Linked DNA regions of Homo sapiens: region 2 is linked to region 1. The links come from fine-mapping of genetic effects on gene expression. Tissue or cell type: whole blood. Region 1 holds a variant in brackets; the other region holds the start of a gene. All regions are shown on one strand. Distances are from middle to middle.

Region 1 (2,759 bases):
TTAAGTGACTTGTCCAAGGCCTGTGAGAAATGGAGCTGGCATTTGAACCAGGGAGTTTGGCATCAGAGCCTACACTGCCAGATGAAAGTTTTGCTAACAGGACCTCTGCTGTTTCTCTCAAACCTAGCTCTGCATATTCAGTTCTGCCACCATCACCTTGACTCAGGCCCTCTTCTCTGCTTGGCTGGATTATTTCATTACTCCACTAACCAGTGTCCTCATCTCATCTCCTATTAATTAGTCCCATGCTTTGCCAGCAGAGTGATCTTACTAAAGCATAGTTCTGCTAGAAAACTCTGCGGTTCTCCCTAAAGAATGACCCAAAGCCTCTCTCAAAGTCTCAGCCTGGCCCAACCTGCCAGCCCAGCCCCATCTTTCTCTAATGCCTCAACACTCTCTGCTCCAAAGAGGATGGCTTGCTACTTCTTGTCCTGCCCTTCACACCCTGGGCCTTAACTCTTCCCCTCATCCCTCAACACCCAGCTCATGCCTCTGCCTCCTGACCACCAGTGGGATCTGCCAGGAGGGGGCCTCTTGGAGCACCCTACGGCGGTTTATTAAACCAACACTGCTGCTAATTGTGTTTGTGTCCTATCTTTTATATGTGACTACAGGCCCAGCTCTGACCCTGGCTCCTGAAGTGAACCCTATCCCTGATCCAACTTTTTCTGGGATGGGAGGTGGAGGGAGTGTATTGTAGTGGTTAACAGTATAACTCTTGGAGTCCAAAGACCTAGATTTAAATCCCAGCCCATCACTTACTAGCAACGTGACTTTGATATCTCACTTGACTTCTATGAATCTCATATGCGCTGTCTCTAAGCAAGGGGTATGATACTCCTCCTGCAAGGCTCATTGAGAGGGTTCCAGGAAACGATATGCAGAGAGTGGCTAGTGCAGTGCATGGCACACAGTTGGTACTTAATACACTATGGTTAGTATATCTGCTGATGTTACTTCTTATTACTGTACAAGGCAACCAACAGATGAGTACAATCTGGCTTCCCAAGTAATGGGCATCTACAGCAGGGCTGCTGTTGTTCTGGCACAGAGTGCACAGCCTGCAGTGTACTTACTTGGTTCTGTCTGGTTTTCTGTCACATTTCAGAA[T/C]ACCTAAAAATGAAGAAATTGTCTTCTCAATTAAAGAACTGAAAAGAAAAGGTGAAATGTGGAGTTACTGACTGCCTATTAGAGGCCTAAATATGGAAAACTAAGCCAGAGCCCCATCACCCTGGGATTTCCTGCTATCCTATATGCTTTAAATCAAATCGGCTACAGAGCTGGTCCAAAGAGTTGTTCAAAAATTGGTCAGAACATGATAGAAAACCAAATGCAAAAACTGTTGACAAAATGGCTAATTTTACCTCGTGCATAAGGCTGAAGATGCAGGGAAGGCTAGAATAGTTTGGACCAGTGCTGTCCAATAGAAATATAATGCAAGCCACATAAGTAATTTAAAATTTTTGGTATCCACATTACAAAGTAAAAAAAAATGTAAATTTTAATATTTTATTTAACACAATGTGTCACAAATATAAAATTATTTCAACATGTACTCAATATAAACATTTTTTAATGAGATATTTTATATTCTTTCACACACGGTCTTAGAAACATATTATTTTACACTCACAGCACATGATAATTTGGACTCCCACATTTCAAGTGCTCCATAGCCACATGTAGCTCATGGCTACTATTTCAGACATTAAGACACTGCTCCCACACATGCATGCATCACTTTCCTGCCCACAGTAGGCATCCGCCTGACCCTAGAACTATGCTAGTGGTTCAGAAGCTTAGTCAATAGGGTTGACTAGAGCTTATAAAGTTGTCTGTCAACTACAACTAGGCAGCTGGAGCTGTTTCCATTCAACTCTTTCCTCTTCTGAAGATTCCATGCCAAACATCTCACTATTTCCCAATTAATGACTTTAAGGTTGCTTAAAGGTTGAGATGCTTGCTGAGTTTTTTTGTTTGTTTGTTTTTTGAGACAGGGTCTCACTCCATCACCCAGGCTGGAGTGCAGTGGCACAATCTCAGCTCACTGCAACATCTGCCTCCCTCCCGCCTCAGCCTCCTGAGTAGCTGGGACTACAGGCATGCACCACCATGCCTGGCTAATTTTTGTATTTTTTTGTAGAGATAGTGTTTCACCATGTTGTCCAGGCTGGTCTCAAACTCCTGGGCTCAAGTGATGCACACAACTCGACCTCTCAATGTGCTGGGATTACAGGCATGAGCCACCATGCCTGGCCTCCAAATTGTTTTTTTTTTTTAAGAACAAATTTTTTCAGATTATCTGGGGCTAACAGTACTGACCAGGGGAGTAATTTTCTGTATATTGAATGACTTTTTTTTTTTTTTTTAAGTGAAATCAACCAATTGTTTTGAAGTTCTATGGAAACTCAGTGCCACCTCTCTTTAGTTCAGGTATCCTGGGTTAGTTCTTTAATTGAGATCTACAACAACACTGAGTGGAAAATGATTTTGGTTTCTGGGAACCAACCTGTTCAGGAGATGATTAACTATTATACTGCTATTTGGGGATTAAAATAGATTTTTAAAAAATTTGAGCTCCCAAAATATTTTATGCATTGGGCAATAGCTGAAAACTTTCTTCAGCTGATCGTTATAATACTGTTTAGTGGAGAGTCAACTGACTGATAATCTATTACTTAGGGATGGATTTTCATGGTATTTACAACTTATAATATGAAAATGTTATCATCAGGAAATTATATTTAGCACTGATATCG
Region 2 (2,629 bases), 52 kb after region 1:
CCCCCTTGGCTGTCTTCCATAGATGCACACGCGCACCTCCCGGGCAGGCAGCGGACGCTGAGCAAACGGACGGACGGGCTGGAGGGCTGGCAGTGGGGTGCAGGAGCCAGCCATGAGAACCCCTCAAGTACAGTTGAACTCGCTGGGAGGTTACTGCTGTACTCCCGGGGTTTTGCTATGGCCTGACTGGGGCCAATGTGTGGAGGGTGAAGGAGGATGGGGAGGCAAAATGGGAAGAAGGGGACCTATTTCCTGAGGTTGTTGTGACGACTTGGCTGACAACACACGGAGAGGATGGAACCAGTTCTGATACTAGTTTTTAGGATTTGAGGGGAGGAAAAAGGAGCAGGAGTCGCACCACTTAGGAATCCCAACGTGAGGCCGCTGCCGACTGGGCTTCCTAGTTGCCTACCCGCTCCTCGCTGTGGGGCGATTCTGAAAAGTCCTCTCTGCTGATACGGCGGACGCCGCGCGGGCGGGGACGGCACCGCGCGGGGAGGGCAGCAGGCGTCGCCCTCGAGCAGGTGGCATCCGCGCCCGCTCCCCGTCCCGGGCGCGTTCACGGCTGGGAAAAATTTTGCAGTCCGCTGAAGCGCTCAGCGACGTTACTGGGGAAGCCCAGGAAGGAACTTGGTCACTGGAGCTCGGGAGGGGGCCGGCGGGGGGGCGCAGGCCCCGCAGGAGAGGCTAGCGGGCCGGAGCCCGTCCTTCCCTAAGGCCACACAGTTCCTTGCTGACTCCATGAGGGACACTGGCGATGAAATAACAACTTTCTCTTCCTGAAAAGGCTCCCACGGCTGAGTTGTTCCCGGCCCACAGCGACCCGTCCCCACCCGTCTCTGATCGGCAACCGCCTCGAGCCCGGCGCGTCCACCCAGCCTGGGTGCTGCCCAGTACCCGCCGGCCGGCGCGGGGCCCCTGGGGCAGGCTTCACTCACCAAAGCAGTGCAGCAGGCAGACCACGCTGAGGACCCCCAGGGCCCGCCCCGCGTCGCTCCCAGCAACCATGGCTCGTCGGGCCGGCCTCTGCGCGAGTGCCCAGCCACAAGCAGCCCTAAGTTCAAGCACCGCCTACGCGGTCGGCCAGAAGTAGGGCTCCGCCCCGCCCTGGGCTGGCAGCCGGCGGCCCGCCCCGGCCCTTCCTCCCCCACCCTCCGCGGCGCCGCGTTTGTCTTCGCGCTTCCACTCCCCGGGCGCGCCTCTGGCCTCGGCTCTGCGCGCCTCCTTCCTGTGTCCCCGGGGCGCCGTCCAGTCCCCCAGCTCGGTCCCTCCCGTCATTCCGCCGCCATTCCATACGCTATTTTTAAGTAAGAAATTCTTTCCTTGAAAATGGCTTGGTTTTAAAAACCAAGGTTTTAAAGTAAGAAATTCTTTCCTTGAAAATGGCTTGGTTTTAAAAACCAGGTTTCTCTGCCTTCCTACCGCACCTCCCGCGCTTCCCCTTAGCGTTTGGGGCGTGCTGTAGGCCCCTCCGTGGCTAGACGGGGCTGTGGCTCCCAGAGAGCCACCGGAGGAGGCAGCAGGACGGGCGGGAGCACCCGGGGCCCCTCATCCCTTCAGCGCTGTGTGATCCCGCATCAGACGGCCTCTTTGAACCACTTTTCCTCAAACATGACAAGGAAAGGGAGCATTTTAGACAACTGTTAGGCGTAGGGTTACCTGAGGCAGGCCTCCCCCGTCCCCATACTCCCTTATCCCCGGAGCTGGGATTTCCAGCCTTTGGTTTCTCCCTTCTCAGATTCCTCTTTTTCTGTCTTCCCCCATCTCAACCGGGACTTTCCCTCAGGCTGAGATGTCAGATCCACATCTCCCTCACTGCCCAGCCTCCCCACATCCATCCAGCCCAAGCTGAGGCAGGCACTCATCACTCTCCCCGCTCTTCATCAGTCTGGATTGAGCTGGCCCTCCCCTCACATCCCTATATCCCAGAACAAATGACCCTATTCCCAGAACCAGCTCCTCACATCAGCCTCCCTGTCTGTCCCCTTTCTTGCAGACAGAAGCACCAGAGTTGCCCCTGCCCAGCTGAGGGAGTTCACAGAACTCTTAGTTATTATGTGAGCAGGAATCCATTTCCATGAACAGGACTCCCTGCTGCCCAAATAACCACCAACACATACATGGTGCAGGTTGTGAAACTGAGTGGGAATGTGCTTTCTTGCTGCTTCACCTCCATTATCCCCAGGTGGGGACTCGAAGTCACTCAAGACACTTGAACCATATTGCAAAGAGACATGAATTATTTCTTAAGTTAGCCATAAAATCTTAAAAGGTATCTCTATCAGTGAAACTTCTGGGACCAATGCCCTCTACCACAAACCTGCTATCTCGAGATATTCCCTACCATCTGTAGATACTGGGAACACAAGGCAGGGGCAGTGTGTAACATAAAATATGAGGAAATCAAGTGTTCTCTGCCCTGGGCTGGTAGGAACTCAGGCCAACTTAGAAAGGCAGGATGGGGTTAGACCTTCAGACACTGGGGAGCCACAGAAAGTTTTTGAGCTGGGAAGTGATATGACAGCAAACATCTATTGAGCAGGCCCTGTGTGAAGTGCATTGCTTGGATTAACTTAGTCTTACTGCTGCTGTTGTTTTTGCAAATGAGGAAACTGATGCCTGGGGAAGG

Evidence for each region. PIP is the estimated chance that this variant, and not a neighbour inherited with it, causes the effect.
Region 2: it holds the start of CD58, and the variant in region 1 is fine-mapped to the expression of CD58 in whole blood (TOPMed, PIP above 0.99).

What each region holds. Positions count from the first base shown.
Region 1 is chr1:116,518,155-116,520,913 of GRCh38, forward strand. CD58 (CD58 molecule) reads right to left here. Exons shown (of 6, transcript NM_001779.3): 5 at 1,077-1,113. Among named protein-coding and RNA genes, the nearest start is that of MIR548AC, 41 kb to the right of the region's middle. The variant T/C (reference allele first, on the strand shown) is at 1,111.
Region 2 is chr1:116,569,965-116,572,593 of GRCh38, forward strand. It overlaps CD58 (CD58 molecule), which reads right to left and starts at 1,062. Exons shown (of 6, transcript NM_001779.3): 1 at 939-1,062. The coding sequence starts at 1,008. LOC124904385 (a long non-coding RNA gene) reads left to right here and starts at 1,011. Exons shown (of 2, transcript XR_007066497.1): 1 at 1,011-1,089. RefSeq lists an enhancer at 134-193 and silencers at 664-733, 804-1,263.